Linked DNA regions of Homo sapiens: region 1 is reported to be linked to region 2. The links are microRNA targets in miRTarBase. Many come from high-throughput screens and were not tested one by one. Region 2 holds a microRNA gene; the other region holds the end of a gene's coding sequence.

Region 1 (7,000 bases), not on the chromosome of region 2:
CAGATGTTTGGATATGTAATTTCTGGGAGAAACCTCAGCAGTTGCTTTAACTATTAAACCAAGACGAAGGATGATTTGTTTTTTTTGAAAGTTCCCCCTTTTGCATTGTTAGGGGCAGAGTCTTTTCCATTTTCAGGGAGAAACTCTGTAGTAATAGTGTGTTTTTAGTTGCTTGTTATCTTAATGAATTCTAGAAGTTTCTGAATCCCTCTGCACTGGTAATTTAGTGATTGCTACTTTATACATGGAGAAGTCCATTTTTTTTTTAAATGAGATAGTGATGGATTTTTTAATATCACTCAGGACCTCATTCCATGCATGTACACAGTCGCCATGGGTCTTTCTGCTTTTGAACGAATCCCGCAGACTTTGAATATGGTACCATGTGACAGGAAGCACCCTTGCTCCTGTGAGCTGCGGGAGATAAATGGGCAATGGGAAACCATATGCTGGTGTCAGAAGAAAGACAAGCACCTAGGCTGCCGTGGCCAGGTTGCAAACTGAGGTCATGCAGGACATCATCAGAGTAGCTTAGAAAGCCAGTCAGGTCACTTGGAAAACTGGTACCTTGGCGTTTTCACATCTAGACCCTGGCTCCCATTTCCTGTGTTACTTTGTCCTGCCTCTCCTGCGGCCATTTTGCAGCAGAGAGTAAATTAGGATCCAAATTTGGGCCCCTCAGATCCGAAGCTGAGAAGTAGCAGAATCGTGGCAGGAACATGCAACTTCTCACTTTACTGAACAGAAGAAACATGCTCTATAGAAAAATCTTCCGGTGGGTGCTGCCCCTTTGTGGCCCCTACACAGCAGCATGCATGGAGGACACGCTGCCCCACACAGGGTTGCCTGCACCATCACGGGGCTGGATGAGGGCTGCATTCTCAGTAGCCACAATCAGTTTTCCCCAAGTGACTTTCTCCCCCATCTCCTTTATCATTTTTTTTCTTTTTTTCTTTTTTTTTTTTGCAGATGTCCTTAAAAGGCCATCGTAAGGCTTGGAATCGAATGAAAATAACCAATGAGCAGTTGCAGGCAGATTACCTTGCTGGGAAGTAGCCAGAGGCAGGCCACGGCTTACAGACCACTACATGACCTATAAAAGTAATCAGCTCCTTTCTAGTCACGGGCTCCTCTCACTGTTCCCTGTCTGCCTGGTGTTCCCAACCCCCCACCCAGGCTGCGTATCATCTCCTGGGCCACATCTGCCCATGGGGAGTGTTTTCACAGCCTGGCCCCTGGAACTGTTACCACTGAAAGAACCACAGGGCACTCTAATGGTTTGACACTTGTTAGCCAGCATTTAGTTCACAAGCATAGTGAAAGTGACCTTCCCACACCTGGGAGAGGGATAGAGGAGGGAGAGCCAGCCCAGTGTATGCCATGGGCTTATCCGTGGCAGCCCCAGTGTGCAACTATCAAAAACAGACATCAAAACAGCATGGTGAATGCCTGGCACTCAGCATTCTCAGTTTACTCTTCAGTTTGGTGGGGTAGCTCCTGGACTAGATACTGCTGCAAAAGAAAACAAGCACGAAGGAAACCAAGATGATTTCTTCGGGCTGATACAACCTGTTCTGACCTGCAAAAATCCTACCTTCCCCCACCTCCCCACCGTAATAGTCATAGTATAAGGGTTGTACAGACGCCTCAGGAGACCTGCCTGATTCCTTTACATCCTTCTCCCTAACATCTAGACTATCTCTAGAGCTGTTTCCTAGTCGTGAATGCGTGATGGTCCTTCTTTGTCCCTGCAAGTATGATCCAACATGGCCCAGTTCAGAATCAGAATATGTCTTCTGTGTCATGGTGGCATTTGGTCCATGGTGGGAGAAAGAAATCAACTTTTCCCAGTGGTGGAGTGAGGACAGGGGAGGGCCGGCCCTCTCAGCCTTGGATGTGATCCATTTGCTGTAGTCTTCCACCTTGGTGTACAGAAACAGGCCAGGGCACGTCTCACCACCGAAGTTCAGGACTCCTCTCAGAACCCACAGATCGAACTGCTGTAGCTGGCACATCATTGGGCTTCCTGGGTCCCCCTGTGATAAAAGACAGAAGGCTTCAAGTCTTAGAAAAACTAGTTTTTGTTGTAAATCTATCCTTGTGCAATATACTGTTTGTTCTAGAAATGTTTTACGCTGGTTCTCACTGGAAATGGGGCAAATTATAGGATACAATTTCAAATCTAGGCAGCCACCACCACAAATTCCAACAAGATGACTTTTCCTTTTATTATGCAAATTAGCTGTGGACTTCTGCTGATTGCCTATAGCTTCCTGGTTCATATTTCATTTTCTTGCCCCTTTCCAGTCCTTTGGCCAAACCTTCCCTCTCTTCTGGCTTCTCATTCCTGAAATGTTGGTGTTTGTTTCTGTTTTGTCCTGAAATGCTCACATTTTCCCTTCTCTGCCTTGCTTCAACCCTTAGTGTAAGCCACTTCCTGCCACCTGGCAACTGCTTACCAGCCTGGCTGGCCGTGCTCTGGGTCTTCCCTACTCCCAATGGAGCAGTCCTCTGGGACTTGGGAATTCTGCCACATACACTTTATCTAACTTAAAGTGACGGAGTAGAAGCTTGGCATCATTAGCTAGATATGGGACCCTGGCAAGTGACCAAATCCTCTCTGAGCCAAGGTGGGAACACAGTTAATGCCTGTAACACGTGCTGAGCACAGCACAGTGCCTGGCACACAGCAAACACTCAATAGAATATTAGCTACCATCATCCTGATGTCGCTATAAAGGCCAGCATTTTTCTGAAAAGTTGGGGAAAATGGGAAAAGCAACAAGGCAACTAGTAGGTATCACTTACCTTACCTGCCCAGACCCCACACCCCTAGGTCTCCTCTCAAAGGAATTCCTGCCCCTCCCATGGCCCATCTTGGTCCGAGAAGGGGGTGGTCATCCCCAGGCTAGCCAGCCACTTCTGACCTGTGTGGCCTGCCTGGCTGGAAGGCCCAGGCAATGACATGTTGCTCTCGCAGTTTGGACTGAGACATGGAATGGGGCCGCAATTAACAACAGGAAACAATCTGAACAGACTGAACCACGAGCAGCAGAAAGGCAGAAGAGCAGCCGCTTCAGCCCCTTACCATCCGAGACCTGGGTGTGTGGTCTGTCTTGGTCACTCTCTCTGTCTCTCTTTCTCTCTTTCTTTCTCTGTCCCCAAGGCTGGAGTGCAGTGGTGCAATCTTGGCTCACTGCAACCTCCACCTCTGGGATTCAAGCAATTCTCCCACCTCAGCCTCTCGAGTAGCTGGGGCTACAGCTATGCGCCACCATGCCCAGCTAATTTTTTTTTTTTTTTTTGAGATGGAGTCTTGCTCTGTCCCCCATGCTGGAGTGCAGTGGCATGATCTCGGCTCGCTGCAACCTCCTCCTCCTGGGTTCAAGCGATTCTCCTACCTCAGCCTCCCCAGTAGCTGGGATTACAGGCGCCCACCACCACACCTGGCTAATTTTTATTTTTAGTAGAGATGGGGTTTCACCATGTTGGCCAGGCTGGTCTCGAACTCCTGACCTCATGATCCACCCGCCTCGGCCTCCCCAAGTGTTGGGATTACAGGCGTGAGCCACTGCACCCGGCCTAATTTCTGTATTTTTAGTAGAGATGGGGTTTCACGATGTTGGCCAGGCTGGTCTTAATCTAACTTCAAGTGATCTGCCCGCCTCGCCCTCTCAAAGTGCTGGGATTAGGCATGAACTACCATGCCCAGTGGGGTATTCTCTTTCAATAAAGCTCCTCTTTTCCAAGGAAGCCACACCAGAACAGAGATGAAGACCAGTGGGAAAACATGGGAGCAACTCCGTGGGCAGGCCAGCGGGGAGGCCATGCTGCAAAGCTGCCGTGATTCCCTGGTGATCTCTCAGCAGGCCAAGGCCAGACATGTGAGGAAGGCCTTGAGGACTTCATTCTGTGCCTCTCCTTGGATGGAAGGGGGTGCTTTAGTGTGGCACTCCTGACTTTTCAATTGACTGGTGAAGAGGCCCTTGTGTGCACCTCACTATGTCTGCCTAGGTCATGGGGGCTCCCTGGCCAAGAATGACGTGGTTCCCCCTTTCATCAGTCCGATTCGCAGTTTGTCTTAACTGTAGTGGTATAGCCAGAGCAAGAAAAAGAATGTGATTTAGGACAAATGATTGGATGAGTGATTGGTAGATGTCCTCAGCTATGGCGTGGTTTTGCAGGTCACTGTTCCACCCACCTGGGCACAGCATATACGCTTTTTCTCTTCCCCATAATCCTGTAGGGGCTGCGACTTCTGAAGCACAAGAGGCAGAGGCGAACAGCTCCAGGTGCCCCTCTGGAGCTACCCTACCTCATCTCCCAAGGGAGCGGCCACAGCCCAGAGTGGGGTCTTTCATTTTGTGATCTTTTCCCTTGACATTCAGCAAAAGCCCTGACAGTGGTAGAATAAAGGCAGGATGGGTGAGTGCAGAGTGATTCTGCTTTTGTTGGGTTTCAGGGAAACCCATAGGCAGATTCTGAACCTGGTGGTTGATTCTACATGTGGGAATTGTGGCTTTGAAGACCTCTGGACATGAGAACATATTTCCAAGACAGAGGATTCTATGGGGACGGGTCACCATTAAATGGTGTGCAAGCATAATTCTGTTCAAAAATGAAGGCATGTTTAGAGGTGTGTCACAGTTAAAAACCAACCTGAACTTTGCAGTTAGATTTTAAAAGATGGTCAGTTAGAGTAGAAATAGCTTAGAATATTCCATTGAGTCTAAGATACAGTTAGAAATCAACATCTTTGAAATTAGGGTGTGTCTTTTAATCAGTTGATGTCAGAGTTTAACGGGCAGCATTTTTTTCTTTCTTGGGATTACAAAAAATGATGGTGCATTCTATAATTGGCAGCATCTTAGATCTGAGGAAGTATGATACTTGTTTGACGGAATGGTTGACGGCAGAATTTTGTTAAAAAGCTATATCTTCACTGTATTTTAACACATTATCTAATTTAAGAAATTGTTAAGATCCCCCACCTGGCAGAGGACCCAGTACAAAATAGGCACTCAATAGATGTTACACCAACTTTGGAAGGGCAAACATATTTCTTAATGAGAGGCAGTCCTTCATGTTTTGCAATAAAATGACTTTTAAAAAAAATTGTCTGTATATATGTATTTTTTCCCCTTGCTCTAAAAATCCTGCCTTTCTGGATCCTATGGGGAAAAAAAATTCCCCATCAGGTGTCCTGAAGGTTATTTAGAGGAGAGTGTGTGTTAAGCCTCATAGAAAAGCAATTCTAGAGCAGAGGAGATAAACACTGTCTGGATATCTGGTAGACCTAGGTCCTTGTCTTTGCTGTAACTTTTATTGACTGTGTGACCCTAGTAAGCCACACTTTCTCCAGATTTGGATATGAAGGGGCCTGAACCAGGTGTGTGTGACTTCTACACATTTTTTTTTGAGGCAGTAGGACAGCCACATCCGTACAGCCCTCATCTGGGTGGAGGGCAGGGCTTCTCAGAGAAGAAAAACTCAGTAACTGATAGCATCAGAGGGGAGTCTAGGTTCCCTAGAAGCTGAATACAGCAGCCCCACACTGTAGACCTGCTCAAAGCATATCGGCCTCTGTGGTTTGGACTCAGACTTTCAAATTTTTAGCTAGTTAAAAAGCACCTGTGACTTAGACAAGCTTCATCATGTTACACTGAAAATCGTGACTGGTTAGTTCATTCAGCAGATTTTTATTGAGCGCATACTGTCTGCCAAGTGCTATTCACTCCAGAGACAGCCACTCATCCCAAGCCCTGCCCTCACAGAGCTCCCCATCTAGGGAAGGGGAGTCCTGAGGCTCCCCTGGATGTGACCAAGGCTTACTCTCAACACTTAGCTTCTACTCCATGATGTTCTTACCAAGCAGGCAGTCTTGGTTTCCTCTTTCGTGTGGCTGCCGCATTCTGTCTTCTGGAGTTTGTATAGGGGACACATGTCAAGATCTTTCACGAAGATTTTCCTCAGGACACTCATCGTCATGTGATTTCCTGTCTGGACCATGCAACAGAGAGCCCAGGGATTATTAACGAGAAGGCAGTCCCCTATGTCAACACAACTCCCACTCATATAGCCAAACGAGAGTGAGAATTTTTTTTTTTTTTTGAGTTGGAGTCTTGTTCTGTCACGCAGGCTGGAGTACAGTGGTGTGATCTTGGCTCACTGCAACTTCTGCCTTTCGGGTTCAAGCAATTCTCCTGCCTCAGCTTCCGGAGTAGCTGGGATTATAGGCATGCACCACAACGCCCAGCTAATTTTGGTATTTTTAATAGAGATGGAGTTTCACCATGTTGGTCAGGCTGGTCTCGAACTCCTGACCTCAAGTGATCCACCTGCCTTGGCTTCCCTAAGTGCTGGGATTACAGGCATGAGCCGCTGTGCCCTGCCAGGAATGTTCTTATAAATCCCTTTTTTTCATAGAAATAAGAACCTGTGACTGAGTTTTTACTGAAAACTACCTCCACTTTGAACTTGAATGTGCAAACAGGCAGAGAACACCCTTCCTCCTCTTCTAGAGAGTATCCATTTCCTTGTTTCTTTCTTTCCCCAAAGTGAAAGAAAACAACGATGGCTTAGACAAGAGGACAATCAGCCGTAGTTCGGGGACTAACATCCCCTCACCTCTCTGTACACTTGTATTCATTCCAGGGTGTCCACTGCCTCTGTACTTCCAGTTTTGGTGTAGGGCTAGAGGGTAAAGGACCAATGTGATGTAAGAATGGCCACTGGATGGGTGCAGTGGCTCACGCCTGTAATCCCAACACTTTGGAAGGCTGAGGTGGGAGGCTTGCTTGAGCCCAGGAGTTCGATACAAGCCTGGGCAACATAGCAAGACCCCATTTCCACAAAAATAAATTTAAAACAATTAACCAGGCATGGTGACATGTGCCTGTAGTCCCAGGTACTCGGGGCTGAGGCAGGAAGATCACTTGAGCCCAGGAGTTCAAGGCTGCAGTGAGCCGTGATGGCACCACTGCATGGAAAAGACCCTGTC
Region 2 (7,269 bases):
TCTCCCATCTTGTCTCATGGTAGTGAATAAGTCTCACGAGATCTGATGGTTTTACAAGGGATTTCCACTTTCACTTCTGTCTCATTTTCTCTTGCTGCTGCCATGTAAGAAGTGCCTTTTGCCTTCCACTATGATTCTGATGCCTCCCCAGCCACTTGGAACTGTGACTCCGTTAAAGCTATTTTTCTTCCCAGTCTCAGGTATGTCTTTATCAACAGCGTGAAAATTGACTAATACATTCCTCATCTTTAATGATCAGAAGCATTTGAGAAGGCTTGGCATTAATTCTTCTTTCAATTTTTGGTAGAGTTCATTAACGAAGCCATCATGCCTTAGGGTTTTCTTTGATGGAAAACTTTGTTGATTCAATGTCTTTATGTATTATTGGTCTGTTCAGGTTTACTCTTTCATGATTCCGTCTTGGTAGGATATTTGTGTCTAGAAAGTTACACATTACTTCTAGGTTATACAGTTTGTTGGTATATAATTGTTTCTAACAATCTTAGGATCTTTTGTATTTCTGTGGTATCAATTGTAATGTCTCCACCTTCATTTCTGATTTTTAAGTTTTCTCATTTTTCTTTACATATATATATTTTTATTATACTTTAAGTTCTAGGGTACATGTGCACAACGTGCAGCTTTGTTACATATGTATACATGTGTCATGTTGGTGTGCTGCACCCATTAACTCCTCATTTACATTAGGTATATCTCCTAATGCTATCCCTCCCTGCTCCCTCTATCCCACAACAGGCCCCAATGTGTGATGTTCCCCTTCCTGTGTCCAAGTGTTCTCATTGTTCAATTCCCACCTATGAGTGAGAACATGTGGTGTTTGGTTTTTTGTCCTTGCGATAAGTTTGCTGAGAATGATGGTTTCCAGCTTCATCCATGTCCCTACAAAGGACATGAACTCATCATTTTTTATGGCTGCATAGTATTCCACAGTGTATATGTGCCACATTTTCTTAATCCAGTCTATCATTGTTGGACATTTGGGTTGGTTCCAAGTCTTTGCTGTTGTGAGTAGTGCCACAATAAACATACGTGTGCATGTGTCTTTATAGCAGCATGATTTATAGTCCTTTGAGTATATACCCAGTAATGGGATGGCTGGGTCAAATGGTATTTCTAGTTCTAGATCCCTGAGGAATCGCCACACTGTCTTCCACAATGGTTGAACTAGTTTACAGTCCCACCAACAGTGTAAAAGTGTTCCTATTTCTCCACATCCTCTCCAGCAACTATTGTTTCCTGACTTTTTAATGATCGCCATTCTAACTGGTATGAGATCGTATCTCATTGTGGTTTTGATTTGCATTTCTCTGATGGCCAGTGATGATGAGCATTTTTTCATGTGTCTGTTGGCTGCATAAATGTCTTCTTTTGAGAAGTGTCTGTTCATATCCTTTGCCCACTTTTTGATGGGGTTGTTTGTTTTTTCTTGTAAATTTGAGTTCTTTATAGATTCTGGATATTAGCCCTTTGTCAGATGAGTAGATTGCAAAAATTTTCTCCCATTCTGTAGGTTACCTGTTCGCTCTGTCGGCAATTTCTTTTGCTATGCAGAAGCTCTTTAGTTTTAATAGATCCCATTTGTCAACTTTGGCTTTTGTTGCCATTGCTTTTGGTGTTTTAGACATGAAGTCCTTGCCCATAAGTTTTCTCATTTTTCTTAGTCTAGCTAAAGGTTTGTTGATTTTATTTTTTCAAAATAGCAACTCTTGGTTTCAGCAATCTTTTCTAATGTTTTCAAGTCTATTTTTTTATTTTTGCTCAGATTTTTATTATTTTCTTTCTTTTACTGACTTTGGTCTTAGTGTGCTCATTTTTCTAGTAACTTGAGAAATAATGTTAAGTTGTTAATAATGTTCTTTTTCTGACATAGGTATTTATTGATATAAACTTCTACCTTAAAAGAACTCCTTTTGCTGAATCCCATAAGTTTTGGCATGTTGTGTGTTCACTGTCTCAAGATATTTTTTAATTTCCCTTTTATTTTTCTCTTTGAATCGTTCATTGTTAAAGGTCACGACTTTTAAATTTCCATTTATTTGGAAATTTTATGAAATTTTTAAAATTATTTATAGTATCATACCATTGAGGTCAAAAAAGATATGTAGTATAATTTTAATATTTTTAAATTTGTTAAGGCCTGTTTTGTGGCCTACCCTGCAATCTATCCCAAAGAATGTTTCATGTGCCCTTAAGAACATGTATTCTGCTAATGTTGGATGAAATGTTCTATATCCATAAGTTATATATGTCTCCATTGATATGTATATATCCATTAAAAAATCAGTTAAACTACACTTTAAAGAGACCGAACAGGTATATAGGTAGCTGATATCTATATATCTCTTTGGTCCCCTTAAAGTGTAGTTTCAGTCTGATGTTTTCCTGTAGATTTTCTTTCTGAAGAATAACCATTTTTGGAAGCTGGATAGTGAAGTTTCCTTGTATTTTCTCCATTCATATATATTAATATTTGTTTTATATATTTAGGAGCTGTGATGTTGAGTACATTTGTATTTAGAATTGTTATGTCCTCTTGATAAGTTGACCTCATTATTATATAGTGACCTTCTTTGTCTTTTACAATTTTTGATGTAGTCTACCTTATCTAGTATAGATATTTCTGCTCTTTTGGTTTCCATTTGCATGAAATCTTTTTTCATTCCTTCACTTTCAGTCTATGTGTGTGATTAAAGGTGAGGCGAGAATTTTATAAGTAGTATAGAGTTGGGACTTTTTTGTATCTATTTATCTACTTTTTATTGGAGAATTTAATCCATTTACACTCAAGGTAATTATAGATTTACTACTGTCATTTTTTAATTGTTTTCTAAATGTTGTATAGATCCTTCGTTACTTTTTCTTGATGGCTTCCTTTTGGATTAGGTAATTTTCTCTAGTGATATGCTTCGATTCCTTACCTTTTATTTTTGCGTATTTACTATAGGCTTTTGTTTTGTGGTTAGCATGATGTTTACATAAAATATTGTATATTTAAAACAGGCTAATTTAAATTGATAACTTGACTTTGATTGCATTAAAACTTTTTACCGTCACATCTTATGTTTGACATCACAATTTATATGTTCTTCTATTGTGTATCCCTTAAAAATTATTATAGCCAGCTATTATTTTTAGTAGCTTTGTCTTTTAACATTCATATTAAGAATAAAAGCAGTTTATATACCATTACATTATTATAGTATTTTGAATTTGACTTCTTAGTTTTACCAGTCATTGTTATACTTTCATATTTTTTCATGTTGCTAATTTTCTTTCAGCTTATGGAATTCCCTTTATCATTTCTTGTACAACTGATCTGATGGTGATGAATGTGCTCAGCTTTTCTTTATCTAGAGAGTTACCACAAATGTGCCAATAACATACACTGGGTAAAAGACAGTCTCTTCAATAAACAGTGCTGGGAAAACTGGATATCCATATGCAGAAGAATAAAACTAGACCCCTATCTTTTGCCATGTACAAAAATAAAATCAAAGTTGATTAAAGACTTAAATCTAAAACTTCAAAGTATAAACTACCAGTAAACATTGGCAAAAATCTCCAAGACATTGGTATGGGCAAAAAATTCTTGAACAATGTCCCAGAAGCATAGGCAACCAAAACAGAAATAGACAAATGGGATCACATCAAGTTAAAAAGCTTCTGCACAGCAAAGAATACAATCAACAAAGTGAGTCAACTCACAGAATGGAAGAAAATATTTGCAAACTACCCCTGACAAGGGATTAATAACCGGAATATATAAAGATCTCAAGAAACTCTACAAGAAAAAAATCCAATAATCTGATCAATAAGCAAAGCCTTGAATAGACATTTTTCAAAACACATACAAGTGGCAAACAGGCATATGAAAAGGTGCTGAACATCATTGATCAGAGAAATGCAAATTAAAACTACAATGAGAAATATTTCACCACAGTTAAAATGGCTTATATCCAGAAGACAGGCAATAAATTTTGTCAAGGATGTGGAGAAAAGGGAACCCTTGTACACTATTAGTGGGAATGTAAATTTGCATAACTACTACAGAGAAAAGTCTGGAGGTTCCTCAAGAAACTAAAAATAGAGCTACCATATGATCCAGCAATCCCACTGCTGGGTATATACACAAAAGAAAGGAAATCAGTATATTGAAGAGGTAGCTGCACTCCTATGTTTGTTGCAGCAGTATTTACAATAGCTAAGATTTGGAAGCAACCTAAGTGTCTCTCAACAGATGAATGGATAAAGAAAATGTGGTACATAAACACAACGAGTACTATTCAGTCATAAGAAGAATGAGATCCTGTTATTTTCAACATGGATGGAACCGGAGATCATTGTGTTAAGTGAAATAAGCCAGGCACAGAAAGACAAACATCATATTTTCTCACTTATGTGTGGGAATTAAATATCAAAACAATTGAATTCATGGGCATAGGGAGTAGAAGGATGGTTGCCAGAGGCTGGGAGGCATAGTGGGTGGCTGGGCAAGTGTTGGGGATGGTTAATGGGTAAAAAAATAGTTAGAAAGAATAATACCTACTATTTGATAGCACAACAGGGTGACTATAGTCAGAAATAATTGTACATTTTTAAATAACTAAAAGGATATAATTGAATTGTTCTTAATACAAAGGATAGTAAGCTTGAGGGGATGGATACCCCCATTGTCCGTGATTTAATTATTTTACATTGCATGTCTGCATAAAACATCCATAAATATATACACCTACTATGTACCCACAAAAACAAACTAAAACTAGAAATACAAATGATACATATTAGATGCAGATACAAATTAGATACAGATGATCTAAATAAGATAATCAACAACTTTGGCCTAATTGATATTTATAGACCACTAAACCAGATAACTGCGGAACACACATTTCTTCCAGGTGTACATGCTATGTTAAAGACAGATCATATACCTAAATGATAATGTTATGTCACCAGAAACATTACTAGCTTGGATTGAGATGGAGGCAAAATAAAAAAGTTGTTGGTCTCCCAAAATTTTACAGACAGGAAACAGGCTGATAAAACTACTCAGCTGCAAATATGCACTCTCTTTCCAGAAAAAGGAAGAACACCTTCAAGGGCAGAATCTTGGGCTTAGGCATGGAGTCTCAAACGACAGAGAGTTAATCCTAGGCTTTGAAACATAATGGAATTTTTCTAGTTAGATTTCAAAATTTCTTGAAACTGATTATTCCTTTCTTCCGTTTTCTCCCTTTAGGAACAGTAATTCCTACAATTGTTATCCCATGTCTCTCTAACCACTGTATCTTGGAGGCAGATAACTTGTCTTCTACTTTCGGAAGTCCATAGAAGAGGAATTTTCCCCCAAGATGGATGATACCCAGAGTATTGTTACATATTTGTGTTGTTTTAAGATATCGAGTTTGTCATAATTTGTTACAGTAGTCACAGTAAGGTTATTCAATATGTAATTACATTTAGAAATCAATAATAGTAATATATCCACAAACCACAAAATATTGAAAAATTAAATATGCCTCTAAATAATTTACATGTGAAAGAAAAAACCCAATGGAAATTAGAAAATGTTTCAAACTGAATAATAGACATATAAAAACTTGTGTTATACAGCTAAAGAAATGTTTCAAGGGAAATTTTCAGCTTTAATGCTTGTATTTCAAAACAAGAAAACTCTGAACTCAATGATCTAAGGTTTCACCTTAAGAAGCTAAAAAAGAAAAAGACTAAAGTAAGTGCAAGTTACTTAAAGGAAAGAATAAATAAGTGAGCAGAAAATCAAATATAAAATAAACAATCAAGAAAATTATCAAAGCCAAAATCTGGCTAATAGAAAAGCTGAAGATAATGAAGAAATATTTTGAGATATTGATTAATAAAGGAAAAAAGTACAAGATACCAACATCAGAAATACAACAGGGCTTATCAATGTAGATGTTATCGTTGTGATATAACACAATGTATGCCAATGTATTTAGCAACATAGATAAGATGAACAAATTCCTTGAAAAGTACAACTTACCAAGAAAAAGTAGCACAATATAAAACAGTCTATCAGAATAGCCCTTTATAATTACATGTGTATATGCGTAGATAGATATATACAAAGAATGACAGAGAGACAGACAGACAGGAAGAGATAGAATATGAAGAACCTTTCCACAAAGAAAACCCAAGGCACAGATCACTTCACTTGTAAATGTTATCAGATATTTAAGAAAAAAAAACAGCAATCTGATACATATTATTTTAGAAATTGAGAGGATATAATTCCCATTTATTATAAAGCTTGCATAATCCTACTACAAAACTTGACAAAAATATAAAAATTGTAATATGTACTCATGTCCCTCATGAATAGAAACAAGAAAACTATTACTAAGATACAAGCAAATGAAAGTCAGCAATATATAAACAGATAGATAATGAGGAAAAGTTAGTGGATGTGCCAGGAATGCAAGATTGGTATAGCATTCAAAAATCTATTAATGCAAATCATTATTACAAAGGAATAAAGGAGAAAAACCATATGATTAATTCAAAAGATGCAAAGATTATATATAAAACAATATCGATTTATAATTTTAAAATTATCAGCAAATTGGTAAAGAACATTTAGAGAAAACAGCTGGCATCACATATGAAGGTAAACTATTGAATACTTTCCCACAATAATTGGTAAAAAAACAAGGATGCTCATTCTTACCCCTCCTACTCAATATCACGCTGTAGGTAAAAGCCATTGAAATAAGAAACAGAGACAAAATAAAAGTTAGAAATCTGAAATAAATGAAACCGTCTATTGGCACATAATTTTGTATGTAAAATTCCTGTGTAGTATAAAAACTACTAAGCATACATAAATTAAGTAATGCCACAGGGTACAATATTAATATACAGAAGTCATTGTATTTTTATATATACTGCCAGCAGAAATTGCAGAATAAAATTTTAAAATAAATTGATTTACAATAGGTTCCAAAGAACATGCTTAACAACAAGGGTAACAAATGATGTGCAATACCTATATTCCAAACACTACAAATTTTGATAAATGAGATTTAAAAGCTAAATAGGTGGATTGATTGGAAGTTTCAATATGGTTAAGATATCAATTCTGCAAAAAGTAATCTGCAGATTCAATGCAATCCCCCAAAAAAATTTGAAATAATTGACAAACTTTAACATAAAATGTCATCTGTTATTTTAAATTCAGGGGGTACATATGCAGGTTTGTTACATGGA

Evidence for each region. The annotated mature microRNA hsa-miR-3144-5p reads AGGGGACCAAAGAGAUAUAUAG and lies in region 2 at 2,354-2,375, opposite strand. An mRNA with a match to its seed (bases 2 to 7 or 8) in the 3' UTR can be bound and repressed. Matches are read on the target gene's strand: a 7mer-m8 pairs with bases 2 to 8, a 7mer-A1 pairs with bases 2 to 7 and ends in A, and an 8mer does both.
Region 1: the mRNA of CFAP263 is a reported target of hsa-miR-3144-5p. Seed matches in the 3' UTR shown: 7mer-m8 at 2,030-2,036 and 7mer-A1 at 3,158-3,164.

What each region holds. Positions count from the first base shown.
Region 1 is chr16:58,278,722-58,285,721 of GRCh38, forward strand. It overlaps CFAP263 (cilia and flagella associated protein 263), which reads left to right. Exons shown (of 9, transcript NM_014157.4): 9 at 970-5,115. The coding sequence ends at 1,056. It overlaps PRSS54 (serine protease 54), which reads right to left. Exons shown (of 7, transcript NM_001305173.2): 6 at 5,869-6,000; 7 at 1,276-2,036. The coding sequence ends at 1,503. Among named protein-coding and RNA genes, the nearest start is that of PRSS54, 13 kb to the right of the region's middle. RefSeq lists a silencer at 2,284-2,578.
Region 2 is chr6:120,010,297-120,017,565 of GRCh38, reverse strand. It overlaps MIR3144 (microRNA 3144), which reads right to left and starts at 2,387; the gene lies at 2,309-2,387.